Regions from separate parts of the Homo sapiens genome. Here region 2 is reported to be linked to region 1. Evidence: microRNA targets listed by miRTarBase, many of them from high-throughput screens and not tested one by one. Region 1 holds a microRNA gene; the other region holds the end of a gene's coding sequence.

Region 1 (7,120 bases):
CCACGGGGGAGCGCGGCCCGGGGAAGGCTGCGCGGCGCCGCCAGCGGCTCCCGGCTCCCGCTCTCCCGGCCGCCAAGAACGAGCCGCCGTGGGCGGGGCCTGCGGTGATTGGCGGGCGGGCGGGGAGGTCGGAAGTACTTTGTTTTTTATGCTAATGAGGGAGTGGGGCTTGTCCGTATTTACGTTGAGGCGGGAGCCGCCGCCCTTCATTCACCCACATGGTCCTTCGAGGTGCCGCCGCCGCCGCCCGACCTGCGCCTTCGCGCCACTTCGCGCCCTCGGGCGAGGCCGAGGGGGTGGGGACGACTACCGCAGCGCCGCCGGGGCTCGCGCTCCTCCGCGAAGCTCTCCTCGCGGGGCGGGCCGGCCGGCCGCACCCCCGGCCTGGGGCCTCCGGTCGTAGTAAAGCGCAGGCGGGCGGGGAGGCGGGAGCAGGAGCCCGCGGCCGGCCAGCCGAAGATGGTGGCGGCTACTCCTCCTGGTGAGTCTGCCCGCCCCTCCGGCGACGGAGGGAAACCTGTTGTGTGCGGCCCGGGTCTGGCGGGCGGGGCGGAGCGGCCCGGGGCGGACTGGCCCGGGGCAGCGTGGCGGCGGCGGCGTGGCCGGGGCGGGTCTCGGCCGTTGGCCGCCCCGGCGTGTGGCAGCCGCATCTGGCTGCCCCCTCGCTCGCCCGCGGGCCGGCGGAGGGGGGCAGGGCCGGGGCGGGAGGGTGGGAGGGGGCGGCGTGCGCGTGGCGGCCGCGCCCGGGACCCGCGCAGACCCTGCCTGGGCCGACCCGAAGGCGGGTGGGCGGACGGCGAACACAATGGCCCCTCGGGGAGAGGACGTGCGAGGCCCGTGCCTTCTCCGGGGCCCGGGGCGCGCGCGGGGCGTGGGGTCTCTGGGTAGGAAAGTTTCTCCCGAGGGCGAGAGTTAAAGCGCCTCCAGAACAAAGCGGCGGCGGCGGCGGCACATGGGGCAGGCCGCGGGCCGGGAGGGGGCGCGCCCACGAGGTACCTGCGCGCCAGCGGGCGGCGTGGCGTGGGCGGGAGCCCGCGGTTCCCCAAACTTTGTACGCGCGAGGGTGGGCGGAGGGGCGCCGAGATCGGCGCGGCCTGGGCGCCACCCCCGCTCCGCGTGGGCTTTGTTAGCCCGCGTGGGCAGCCTCGGGGCGGGGCCCGCAACTTCCCCGCCGTGGCCCTCGGAGGAGGCCGCAGTCGGCCTCAGCCGCGGCGTGGAGCCGCCTGCGCCCGGCCGCTTGCTGGGAGTGTGGCGCGGGAGGGCCAGCCCGGCTCGGCGGGAGCGGCGTCCCCGCCGCCATGTTCCTGCGGGGCGGGCTGCACGGGGGTGAGGGCGGGGGACATGGCGGCGACTGCGCGCCGCCGCCGATTGTTCCCGGCTTAGGCCTCGGGCCGCGTGCGACGGGCACCGCGGCCGCGGAGCCCCCGCCCCTCTGGGCCGGGCTCGGGGGGGCTGGGGGACACAAAGGAGGGGCGGCGCGCCCGCGTCCCCGCCGCACTCGGGCCTCGGCGCCGCCGGTCGCCGCGCGGCTGCCGCCGGGAAACGGGTTGGGGGGGTTGCCGCGTCCGGCGGGGCCTGACTCTGACCCGCCGCCCCCTGGCGGCTACGCGGAGAATCGCAGGGCCGCGCTCCCCCTTGTGCGACATGTGCTGCCGGCCCGGGCTCCATGAGCGTGGCGGGCACTTTGCAGTCTCGGGTGTTCCTGCCCGGTCTTCTGTTCCTAAACTGCAGCAAAGGGAAAAGGAACTGAAAAAGGCAGGCTCGTCGTTGCAATATCACCAAAAGAGAAAATTAACGGCATGCCATCAGGACCACAGCAGTTGGAGAAACAACTCTTTATCCCGGCTTGCAGCCACGAGGTCTTGATTGGGGGAGGGGTGGTGAAGAATAGTCTGTGGGCTGCTTTTTTTTTTTCCTTTTACTGGAGCTGTACAGTGGAGTCGGTGATTGCTGCTGATCATAATCAAGTATTTTAGGAGCTTATTTAGACATGTATCTGATAGCTAAGGATTTTTCAACTTTATTCTCTTACGTATTTTTCAACTGTAAATTATTGGGCTTTTAAATCCTGCTAGTATTGCTCGACTCTTACTCTCACAAATGGATGGAATTAATTGCTGTTAGGAGGTTGGAAAATAGCAAATATAGATTTGGACGGTGGTAGTAATTTTGAGCAAATAATGTTTTATCTTTTTTTTCCTTATTTTTCCCTATTCCAGTCATACACGTGGACCTAACTGCACCAGTAGCTTTTCTGAGAATACTTGCTGAAAAGGAAGTTTTCTGGAATGGGTAAGTGTATTCTGATTTTCTTGAACTTTTCTTAAAAACAAATTTTTCTTGCTATTAAAGTTGAATAAATAGGATTGGTTTCTTAGAGAGTAAAAGTAGGTGTTTCTTTCTTTAGACAATGTACCTTTTCTGAAAAACTAACTCATTAAGTACGGATTTGCTAATTTTAAGGTAGTAAAATTACAGTGTAAATATTCCTGTACATTTTTGGAAACTGGCTTATGCAGTTTACGAAATATAATTTTAGACCCTCTTTTAAGTTGGGTGATAAAGTAGATATAACCTGAGATGATAGATTTAAACAGGATATTTACGTTCTGCTACAATTGACTGATAACACTTGAAGTGTAGTCTGAACAGTAATTTTGTTAATCATTTCAACAAGTATTTGCTAAGTGGAAGCCAGAAGAGGAGGAAAATGTTTTGCCACGTGGATGTGAAGATTTCCTCTAAAAGGTACACATGGACTAAATTGCCTTTAAATGTTCCAAAATTAGTTCTCATTTATTTGCAGTCTCATTTTGTTTTGTTTTTTTTCTCTATGTGTCAATCCATTTGGGAGAGGCCAGCCATTGGAAGAGCCACCACTTCCAGTGCTAGTTGGATGGTTGGTTATGATTGCCTTCTGTAAAGAATTCTTAAGGCATAAATACGTGTCTAAATGGACCTCATATCTTTGAGATAATTAAACTAATTTTTTCTTCCCCATTAGGGATTATGCTGAATTTGTATGGTTTATAGTTGTTAGAGTTTGAGGTGTTAATTCTAATTATCTATTTCAAATTTAGCAGGAAAAAAGAGAACATCACCTTGTAAAACTGAAGATTGTGACCAGTCAGAATAATGTCAAAGTGCTTACAGTGCAGGTAGTGATATGTGCATCTACTGCAGTGAAGGCACTTGTAGCATTATGGTGACAGCTGCCTCGGGAAGCCAAGTTGGGCTTTAAAGTGCAGGGCCTGCTGATGTTGAGTGCTTTTTGTTCTAAGGTGCATCTAGTGCAGATAGTGAAGTAGATTAGCATCTACTGCCCTAAGTGCTCCTTCTGGCATAAGAAGTTATGTATTCATCCAATAATTCAAGCCAAGCAAGTATATAGGTGTTTTAATAGTTTTTGTTTGCAGTCCTCTGTTAGTTTTGCATAGTTGCACTACAAGAAGAATGTAGTTGTGCAAATCTATGCAAAACTGATGGTGGCCTGCTATTTCCTTCAAATGAATGATTTTTACTAATTTTGTGTACTTTTATTGTGTCGATGTAGAATCTGCCTGGTCTATCTGATGTGACAGCTTCTGTAGCACTAAAGTGCTTATAGTGCAGGTAGTGTTTAGTTATCTACTGCATTATGAGCACTTAAAGTACTGCTAGCTGTAGAACTCCAGCTTCGGCCTGTCGCCCAATCAAACTGTCCTGTTACTGAACACTGTTCTATGGTTAGTTTTGCAGGTTTGCATCCAGCTGTGTGATATTCTGCTGTGCAAATCCATGCAAAACTGACTGTGGTAGTGAAAAGTCTGTAGAAAAGTAAGGGAAACTCAAACCCCTTTCTACACAGGTTGGGATCGGTTGCAATGCTGTGTTTCTGTATGGTATTGCACTTGTCCCGGCCTGTTGAGTTTGGTGGGGATTGTGACCAGAAGATTTTGAAAATTAAATATTACTGAAGATTTCGACTTCCACTGTTAAATGTACAAGATACATGAAATATTAAAGAAAATGTGTAACTTTTTGTGTAAATACATCTTGTCTTGTTTTCATTCAAAAACATTTCACTTTTGGGGTTGCGTGTCAGATTTGGCAGTATAAATTCTGGCTATATTTTTTGTTGTTAGATTTATTTGGCTGTTAAGTATTGCGATATGACTAAACATACTGTATACCTGATGATCATCTGTAAAGTTAGAGTATATCTTTTTGCTTTCTTTGGAGTTAGTGTTATTCCAGGATATTTTACTTAATCTAAAAGTTAATTTATGTTGCTCATATATTACTCAAGTATTTAAATTTAGAGAGAATGCCGCTCTGTTTAAAGCAATGTGTAAAGATGAGTTTTTTTAAGCATGGAATTTAGGGTTGGGGTACAATTTGTTTCTATTAAGCAAGTACCAGTTTACCAATACATGAGTAACTGAAGTGTAACTGTTAAATGCTTGTATACTAGTTTTTCTTTCTGATTGTCAGTGATTTATAAGCTATAAATGACCAAGGTCCTCAGACTGCTTTTAGCATCTGCAACTTAAAAAAATGGGAGTTAGAAAAAGAACAAATGCTAAATAGAGTAACAGTTAAATGTATGTGTACACTCTTCCCAAATGCCAAGAGTGCAGCGGTGGGGTGAGATTCAGATATTCATTTATTTCTAAGTCTGTAGTTAACATTTATGTTCCCTACTCCCTACGTAAGCCAGACTTTGGCAACAGTGATAGTTGATTCCAGGCTTATTTGACTTAAAGTCACTGAAGTGGAAACTAAGAAGTGGCAGTTAGTGTTTTACCCAGCATTTCTGCCTTCTCTCTTTTCTTCATGTGTTTTTGTCTCTAGCCTATGTGTATTTGTGTAGAATAATGTGGGATACCTGAATAATAGATTTAAAAGGACCAAGTGGTAAAATTGGGCCCAAGCTGAAGTACAGGCAAACTTGATGTTTGAAAGATAAGTTTTGAGAAATGTCATTGTATTTTGGAGTAAAAGAGGCTATCTTAGTAATAAGAAATAAACTTCCATAACACTAGGTTAGACCACCCAATAAATCTAGAAATCAGCTTTTAAAAATATTGTCTGAAGTCTAACAAAAGTTTTCACCTCTAATGTGTTCTTTAAGAAATTTAAGGAACTTAGCCTTGGATTCCTGAATAGAAAGGTAAGAATTCTATCATTCTGGAGTTGATGAAAACATAAATTTTCAGGATGTGAAATGAACAGTGATTTATAAAATGGAAATCAAATTGTACATTAGCAGAGTTCTTAAGCTTTTTGAATTGAAGGAGACCTAATAATTGTGTCTTTTTGGTTATTTAGTGACAAACGTGGCTTTCAAACTATGCTTAAAAAGTTCCGGCTGGACACGGTGGCTCACACCTATAATCCTAGCACTTGGGGAGGCTGAGGCAGACGGATTACCTGAGGTCAGGAGTTCGAGACCAACCTGGCCGACATGGTGAAACGCTGTCTCTACTAAAAATATAAAAAATTAGCCGGGTGCAGTGGCGTGCACCTGTAATCCCAGCTACTCTGGAGGCTGAGGCAGGAGAATCACCTGAACCTGGGAGGTGGAGGTTTCAGTGAGCTGAGATCCTGCCACTGCACTCCAGCCTGGGCGCAAGACCAAGACTTAAACGCAAAAAAAAAAAAAAAAAAAAAAAAAAAGTTTCATAATACAGCATGGTCTGGTAGTTTGCAAAATGGTGTGCTTTTGGGGAGATACACTAGCAATTTTTTTAAAAACTGGAACAGTGTGATAGGAAGCCTGCTGGATGATTTCTTAAATATTCTAAAATGTAAGTCAAATATGTTTTAATAACAAAGACTTAAATGGCTTTTCTCCCTAGAGACTGAAACTAGTATTCATTGTGTTCAGAACTTAATTGGGCTTGAACTGAGATTTAAATCTAATAAACAAGTTAATAAATGTGTATGTTTTGTTGTGGGTTTGGTAGTGATCTGTGGTTCTATAGGGTTTAATAGGAATTGCTTTTGATTTGTTTCTGGCTTTAGAATGTGAGGCAAATTTTACATTCTTGGTTCTATTAAGATTTTCTTAGGCATGCTAACATGCCAACAAAAAGCCATGTAAGTATTGTATAAAAAGATTCACATTGTTAATTTAGCCATTTTGAAATTCAGATGAGTGAGCAAGTTGATAATGGCCTCATCTCTGACCTGAGAAAAAACAACTTTGACCCTTGTTCTTAAAATGCTTTAACCTTGAAGTTGCTTGAGACTTAAGAGGTCATGTTGCTTTAGGTTTAATAAATAGCCTTAACTATTTGGAGGGGAAAAAATGGGTCAACTTTTTTTTTTTTTTTTGGCGTTTGCATGTACAACTTTCTATTTTTAGCCTATATTTGGAAAGAAAGCACTTAACATTTTAGGAATTCTTTTTAAAGCTGCTTGCAAAGTGTTGGTGATTTTACTGAAAACTTTTGAGATCTTCATTTTACAGGCAGACCTGTCTAACTACAAGCCAGACTTGGGTTTTCTCCTGTAGTTTGAAGACACACTGACTCCTGACAAAATGCAGCCTGCAACTTCCTGGAGAACAACTCAGTGTCACATTAAAGTTTATTATGTATTTAATGATACACTGTTTAATTGACAGTTTTGCATAGTTTGTCTAACTTTAGAGAATTAAGAGCCTCTCAACTGAGCAGTAAAGGTAAGGAGAGCTCAATCTGCACAGAGCCAGTTTTTAGTGTTTGATGGAAATAAGATCATCATGCCCACTTGAGACTTCAGATTATTCTTTAGCTTAGTGGTTGTATGAGTTACATCTTATTAAAGTCGAAATTAATGTAGTTTTCTGCCTTGATAACATTTCATATGTGGTATTAGTTTTAAAGGGTCATTAGGAAAATGCACATATTCCATGAATTTTAAGACCCATAGAAAAGTTGAAGAATGCTTAATTTTCTTATCCAGTAATGTAAACACAGAGACAGAACATTGAGATGTGCCTAGTTCTGTATTTACAGTTTGGTCTGGCTGTTTGAGTTCTAGCGCATTTAATGTTAATAAATAAAATACTGCATTTTAAAGCTGTTAAGAAATTGTCCAGAACGAGAATATTGAAATAAAAACTTCAAGGTTATTATCGCAGTTTTTATGGCGT
Region 2 (7,098 bases), not on the chromosome of region 1:
TAGGACGGGGACCAGAGGTGGGAGACCGTGGTTTCATTTTAAACTCTTCCACAGCTCAAAAATGTTTTACCTGATTAAAAAAAACCCCAAACTAGTTGTTTGATCCTTTTTGAAAGTAACCCTAGAACTCTACAACTAACATGAACTGGCACTGAGGGAGTCCCTTGGGGACCACAGGACAGCCACTCTGACCAGGTGGGGACAGGCCCTACATGTGCTGCCAGAGCCTGGCTTTAACCTTGTCTTGTCTTCTCCATCACAGCAGCCGGAAGTAGAAGTGACCCATGAGACCCTGCAAAGGAATAGGCCGGACTCTGGAGTGGAGGAGGCGTGGAAGATCAGGAAGGAACTGGATGAGGAGACTGAGCGGAGGCGGCAGCTGGAGAACGAGGTCAAGAGCACCCAGGAAGAAATCTGGACCTTGAGGAATCAGGGGCCTCAGGAATCGGTGGTGAGGAAGGAGGTGCTCAAGAAGGTGCCGGATCCCGTGCTGGAGGAGAGCTTCCAGCAGCTGCAGCGGACGCTGGCAGAGGAGCAGCACAAGAACCAGCTGCTGCAGGAGGAGCTGGAGGCACTGCAGCTGCAGCTGCGTGCCCTGGAGCAGGAGACCAGAGACGGGGGGCAGGAGTACGTGGTCAAGGAGGTCCTGCGCATCGAGCCTGACAGGGCCCAGGCGGATGAGGTCTTGCAGCTGCGGGAGGAGCTGGAGGCACTGAGGCGGCAGAAGGGCGCCCGGGAGGCAGAGGTGCTCCTCCTGCAGCAGCGTGTGGCCGCCCTGGCTGAAGAGAAGAGCCGGGCGCAGGAGAAGGTCACAGAGAAAGAGGTGGTGAAACTGCAGAATGACCCCCAGCTGGAGGCAGAGTACCAGCAGCTGCAGGAGGACCACCAGCGCCAGGACCAGCTCAGGGAGAAGCAGGAGGAGGAGCTGAGCTTCCTCCAGGACAAGCTCAAGAGGCTAGAGAAGGAGCGGGCCATGGCCGAGGGCAAGATCACCGTCAAGGAGGTGCTCAAGGTGGAGAAGGACGCGGCCACCGAGAGGGAGGTCAGCGATCTCACCCGCCAATATGAGGACGAGGCTGCCAAGGCTCGCGCTAGCCAGAGGGAGAAGACGGAGCTGCTCCGAAAGATATGGGCCTTGGAGGAGGAGAACGCCAAAGTGGTGGTGCAGGAGAAGGTGCGGGAGATCGTGCGGCCAGACCCCAAGGCGGAAAGTGAAGTGGCGAACCTCCGCCTGGAGCTTGTGGAGCAGGAGCGAAAGTACCGGGGTGCCGAGGAGCAGCTCCGGAGCTACCAGAGTGAGCTGGAGGCCCTCAGGAGGCGAGGCCCCCAGGTGGAAGTCAAAGAGGTGACTAAGGAAGTCATTAAGTACAAGACTGACCCTGAGATGGAGAAGGAGCTTCAGCGGCTCAGGGAGGAGATCGTGGACAAGACCAGACTGATCGAAAGGTGTGATTTAGAGATCTACCAGCTGAAAAAGGAAATCCAGGCCCTGAAAGACACCAAACCCCAGGTCCAGACCAAAGAGGTGGTCCAGGAGATCCTCCAATTCCAAGAAGACCCTCAAACCAAGGAGGAGGTGGCGTCTCTGAGGGCAAAGCTCTCAGAGGAGCAGAAGAAACAAGTGGATCTGGAGAGGGAAAGAGCTTCCCAGGAAGAGCAGATCGCCCGGAAAGAGGAGGAGCTCTCGCGGGTGAAGGAAAGGGTGGTGCAGCAGGAGGTGGTCAGGTATGAGGAGGAGCCAGGCCTGCGGGCCGAGGCGAGCGCCTTTGCCGAGAGCATCGATGTGGAGCTGCGGCAGATTGACAAGCTGCGGGCAGAGCTGCGGCGGCTGCAGCGCCGGCGCACCGAGCTTGAGCGGCAGCTGGAGGAGCTAGAGCGCGAGCGGCAGGCCCGCAGGGAGGCCGAGCGCGAGGTACAGCGGTTGCAGCAGCGGCTGGCAGCGCTGGAGCAGGAAGAAGCTGAGGCCCGTGAGAAGGTAACCCATACGCAGAAGGTGGTGCTGCAGCAGGACCCGCAGCAGGCGCGAGAGCATGCCCTGCTCCGACTCCAGCTGGAAGAAGAGCAGCACCGGCGGCAGCTCCTGGAGGGGGAGCTCGAGACCCTCCGGAGGAAACTGGCTGCACTGGAGAAGGCGGAGGTCAAGGAGAAGGTGGTGCTCTCCGAGAGTGTCCAGGTGGAGAAGGGCGACACCGAGCAAGAGATCCAGAGGCTCAAGAGCAGCCTGGAGGAGGAGAGCCGCAGCAAGCGCGAGCTGGACGTCGAGGTGAGCCGGCTGGAAGCCAGGCTTTCGGAGCTGGAATTCCATAACTCCAAGTCATCCAAGGAACTAGACTTTCTGAGGGAAGAGAACCACAAATTACAGCTGGAGAGGCAAAACCTGCAGCTGGAGACCCGAAGGCTCCAATCGGAAATCAACATGGCAGCGACGGAAACACGAGACCTGCGGAACATGACCGTGGCGGACTCTGGGACCAACCATGACTCCAGACTGTGGTCCCTGGAGAGGGAACTGGATGACCTCAAGAGGCTCTCCAAGGACAAAGACCTCGAGATCGACGAGCTGCAGAAGCGCCTGGGCTCCGTGGCCGTCAAGCGGGAGCAGCGGGAGAACCACCTGCGGCGCTCCATCGTAGTCATCCACCCTGACACAGGCCGCGAGCTGTCCCCGGAGGAAGCCCACCGTGCCGGGCTCATTGACTGGAACATGTTCGTGAAACTCAGAAGCCAGGAGTGCGACTGGGAGGAGATCTCAGTGAAGGGTCCCAATGGGGAGTCCTCAGTGATACACGACAGGAAGTCTGGCAAGAAGTTCTCCATCGAAGAGGCCCTGCAGAGTGGCAGGCTGACCCCTGCTCAGTATGACCGCTATGTCAACAAGGATATGTCCATCCAGGAGCTGGCGGTCTTGGTATCTGGGCAGAAGTAGGCACAGCTCTTGCAACTCTTCGTAACGGCAGACGCTGGCCCTCTCCTACGACGCAGTGACCTCCTTGGTGTCGTCCTCTCCCTTGCCCTGGTGCAGGCCAAGCATTTTATACATACCCTCGCTGCCAGGCTGCTCAGAGTCCCGCCCACATATGAGACAGGCACTGGCTGAAGACAGGCAACTCTCGTCCCAACCATCATTCACCCTGAGTGACGTACTTCATCCTCCAATGACTGGACAACTGCGATGCCTTTTCCTCCCTTTTCCTGTACACTCCCAGCAACAAACTCCTCATGATAACTGCACACAATCTGAAAACCACTGAAGGACAAGCCAACCACAGCAGCCAAGCCCACTCCTTGCAGCATGGGTACTGGTGGCACACCAGACAGTGACACTGCCCCACAAAGGCCTGGGCCCGTGGGGGCTGCTGCCTGGCATGACATCTCTCCAGATTTCTGGCTTAAAACCAACTTTCCATCCGAGAAGCCTCCTCAGTAGTTACTCTGCTCATGAGACAGATCTGGGCTCCAAGCCAGGAAAGGTGAACAGAAACCACAAGTGTCCAGCCCTCGGTGCTGGAGTGGACGTTAATTGTCAGCCACCAGACTGTCCCGGCACCTACAGAGAATGTTTCACAGTTCTGGCATTTAAATCCTTTGATAGTGGATTGTGCTGCTGTTAGCCTTAGTTTCAGTGCTTTACAAGTCTCGCTTATTATCTCACTGGTATTTAGGTATACAAAACAGTTGATTATTCACCACGCCAATATCTGGGTCTCTGTATCTCATGTAGAACATAAGAAAATGGGAACTAATAGGGAAATTTATTTATAGCATGAAAATAAACCTGGTGGCTGGAGTCTGCTTGTACGGTCCACATGTTTCTTCTTTTGCATGCAAGGCTTACTCCCCCGCCCCCCCCCCTTGGCTTTCAGCCAAAATGGATATTCCATCTGTAACAGCTCCTACAGGAAGAACTACTTACTTCCACATGGTAGAAAGAAAAGAGTGAGAAAAAATGTTTTGGAAACCTTGAAACAATTTATTGAATTGCTTTATACAAGATTAACAATCTCCACACCACCCCTAACACCAACATAGTCGCTGCACAAAAGCCACAGCCCCTCTCACACCTAAGAAACGGTCACGCCCGGTAAGTGCTCAGAGACTTTCGCTGCGCCAGGGAAACCCCTGCAGCCCCCAGACCCCGAGGCTGCTCTGCCCCACCCTCTGCTGCGGCCTCGCCTGTAGGTCTGCCTTGCCATGGCTGTTCAGTCATTCGCTCTTTCATTACCACAAATAAAGCATAAACAAGGAAAAGAAATCTCAAACTCCCCATCAAAGAAACGTTTCCCTGAGGCAAGAGGCATCACTAGATTCCTAAAAATGAGGGTATTCTGCTCCAGCTGCACGCGCAATGGTACGTGGGGAGGAGGGAGCACCAAAGGGAAAGGAAGGAGGGCCTGGGACCCGGGTGTTTATGGGCAGAGAAGCCTGGAGAGTCCCTGCTCAGCCTCCACTGCCGGCCTCTGCTTGGCTTTGAGCTCAGCAATACAAATCTCTTCTTTGGCTCTTTTGCTACTACCTAAGACTACTCTGTAAACAAACTGGAAATCCAAGTTGCAAAAAATATATATAACAAAGGGATAAGGAATCCACTTAGCCCAATGTGAAACACGGATTGGTTCTTATGTAAAAAAAGGAGACAGAGCAGAGGCCGGGCCAAAGGGCGGACAGAGGTCTTGCTCCTTGGGAAACCGGGAAGGCCAGCAAACCTCTGAATGAAGGATGAGTTACTGGGCGCTGTACCCTGGGAGTCAGGAGCCAAGAGCGGTCCGTTTTCCCACAGGTGTATGTGCTGAGGACACCGTATACTCTCAACGTGCCTGATCACTTAGCTGGAGCAGTCAGTTCAGACTCACCTTGTGGCACAGACCTCACAAGACAGGCAAGTGCCCTCAAATCCTTGTGAAACAGCCACTGGTTGAGTGGTGACTTAGGAGCTCTGCAGTAACTGTCCTAGTCTCTCTGATCCACTCTCCAAGCTCTTCTGCACATCACCCTTCAGTCGACACATAACCCCACTGCCTGGAGAGCCCCAGGACTTCAAGGCCTATTTCTACCCGGCAGACACTTCACAGAGGCCTGCTTCTGCCGCACTGCCTAAGAATGATTCCTAAGAATACAAACTGGAATGTCTATCTGTGACTTGGGACCCCTGGTATCCTTGACCCTCAGAGAGATGAAGGGCTCTGGGCTCTGCAGTCCACCTCCACGAACTCTGGAAAAACAAAATGGGAGCCCTGGCTATACTGGGACTTGGAATTTGGGGGCCCAGACAACCTTCTAGTCAGGACGGCACAGATAATGATGTGCAAGTGTAAAAAACTCAAAACTGGCTTTCTCTTCAATACAGACATATCTTTAAAAAGGTCTTCGTCTCAGATCCATTCAGAGGGCTGAATGGACATGTGTTGTCGAATTCTGCTCCACCATAAAGGCACTGGAATTATGTCTTCCTATAATATGATGTGTGAAGAACAGTCCCCTTCTATCCAATGCATTTAATGGTAATGATGAAAACTGAGCCCAAAATAGGTGTCTGTAAAAATCCTATCATAATTGTTGAATCTACAAAGGTCTTTTCTCTAAAAGAGCTTCATTGTCATGTTCCGAGGAGAAACTGGCCCCCACAGTGAGCACACCCTAGGTGTTCTTAGTATTTCGCAGGGACAGTGCAGGTCTCCCAGCTGTGGCTCTGGCCTGAGTTTTGTCCGCTTTGAGCACACAGCCTGGGGATGGGGCGGCACTGTGACCATCCAGGGAGCTTACTGCAGCCAGAAGGAGCCCCTGAGCAGTGGGGTGCTCTGAGGTACTCTGACCAAATGCCAGGGGATCAGGCAGATTCACCCACAGGTGTGCCAACTGCTCTGCCACCAGAGCCTGTAAACACTGTGCCTCCCACCACGGCCCAGCGCAAGCCCCAGCCTAGAGCTGCCCCTCTAACAACCGTCTAGCGACAGAGCTGCAAGGCCCAGAGCACGGGGCAGTCTGCACCTCCTGAGCAGCAAGGGCCCGGCTCCCTCCATGGGAGGCACATCAGAAGTGCCGAGAAGCGCTCCGCTGAGAACTCACGCTCCTCCAGAAGAACACCAAGCAGCAGAAAGGGCGCAGTGAGTGTACATCCTGGGAGACCTGCACGTTCTGATTCCACCCAGACCCAAGTGGCAAGCCTTGCCTCTGAAGCGGTCACAATTTCCGTGGTACAGCAGGCCCTTTCCCGTGAAGCTGAGAAGCACCTGGAAAAGAGTAAGAAAAATTAGAACGCAAGTTTTTCATGCTCTCTGATTTCCTTAAGGCAGTAGTAACCAAACTTCAAGGGAGACACCTAAATAGCAAAAGTCCCCAAATGCTGAGTGTTCTAGAGCTCAAACAAGCCATGAGACACCAGCCAGCAGTTATTCGTGTACACTACTCCTGGCCACAGCCTGCAAGCACACTAGCACTGTGAAGGTCGGTGGTCACTCAGCACAGTGTTTCCAGAACAGCAACTCTGCTGTGCAACTTGGGCTACGTCATCTCAGGCTACAATTGCCATCCTGAGGCGAGGCCTGACGATCACACAGAACTCAAGGCAGCAATGATCATTCATTCTCTTACCATCAAAAGACCCTCAGGTCCTGTAAAGACAAATTCAAAGGCACTAGCATTCTCAGTCCACAGAAGAAAGAAAGGAAAGCAACGCAGACACAAGTCACGCAGCTGAAATGCGCAAATAGCTTCTTACTCGCATCTCGTGTCATCCTATAAGCTGAAGTCCATCTAAGGAAGTGAGAGAAGCTCACTTGGATAACCCTGTTTTGGTATAGTTGCTTTTCTGATTGATTTTCTTTTTCCTCGAACTTTTAAACTGATTAAAAAAAATTTTTTTAGAGATGAGGTCTCACTATGTTGCCCAGGCTGGAGTACAGCAGCTATTCACAAGCATGATCACAGCACACTATACCCTCTGATTCCTGGGTTCAAGCAATCCTCCTGCCTCTCAATGCCACCACATCCAGCCTCTGAGAGCCTTAAACAGTTTTAAAAACTGACTCATAATAATGACACATATTTTATGGGGTACATAGTGATGTTTCAACATCTAAAATGTGTAGTGTCACGTTAGAG

What was found. The annotated mature microRNA hsa-miR-18a-3p reads ACUGCCCUAAGUGCUCCUUCUGG and lies in region 1 at 3,319-3,341, shown strand. An mRNA with a match to its seed (bases 2 to 7 or 8) in the 3' UTR can be bound and repressed. Matches are read on the target gene's strand: a 7mer-m8 pairs with bases 2 to 8, a 7mer-A1 pairs with bases 2 to 7 and ends in A, and an 8mer does both.
Region 2: miRTarBase lists UBN1 as a target of hsa-miR-18a-3p. Seed matches in the 3' UTR shown: 7mer-A1 at 4,146-4,152.

Annotation. Positions count from the first base shown.
Region 1 is chr13:91,347,479-91,354,598 of GRCh38, forward strand. MIR18A (microRNA 18a) reads left to right here and starts at 3,273; the gene lies at 3,273-3,343. MIR17HG (miR-17-92a-1 cluster host gene) reads left to right here and starts at 209. Exons shown (of 3, transcript NR_197388.1): 1 at 209-481; 2 at 2,220-2,292; 3 at 2,678-7,099. It overlaps MIR17 (microRNA 17), which reads left to right and starts at 3,127; the gene lies at 3,127-3,210. It overlaps MIR19A (microRNA 19a), which reads left to right and starts at 3,413; the gene lies at 3,413-3,494. It also overlaps MIR20A, MIR19B1 and MIR92A1. RefSeq lists silencers at 1-657, 708-1,697 and enhancers at 1,247-1,794, 1,795-2,342.
Region 2 is chr16:4,879,212-4,886,309 of GRCh38, reverse strand. UBN1 (ubinuclein 1) reads right to left here. Exons shown (of 18, transcript NM_001079514.3): 18 at 3,909-6,227. The coding sequence ends at 6,178. PPL (periplakin) reads left to right here. Exons shown (of 22, transcript NM_002705.5): 22 at 263-3,803. The coding sequence ends at 2,926. Among named protein-coding and RNA genes, the nearest start is that of UBN1, 35 kb to the right of the region's middle. RefSeq lists an enhancer at 676-1,176 and a silencer at 1,935-2,135.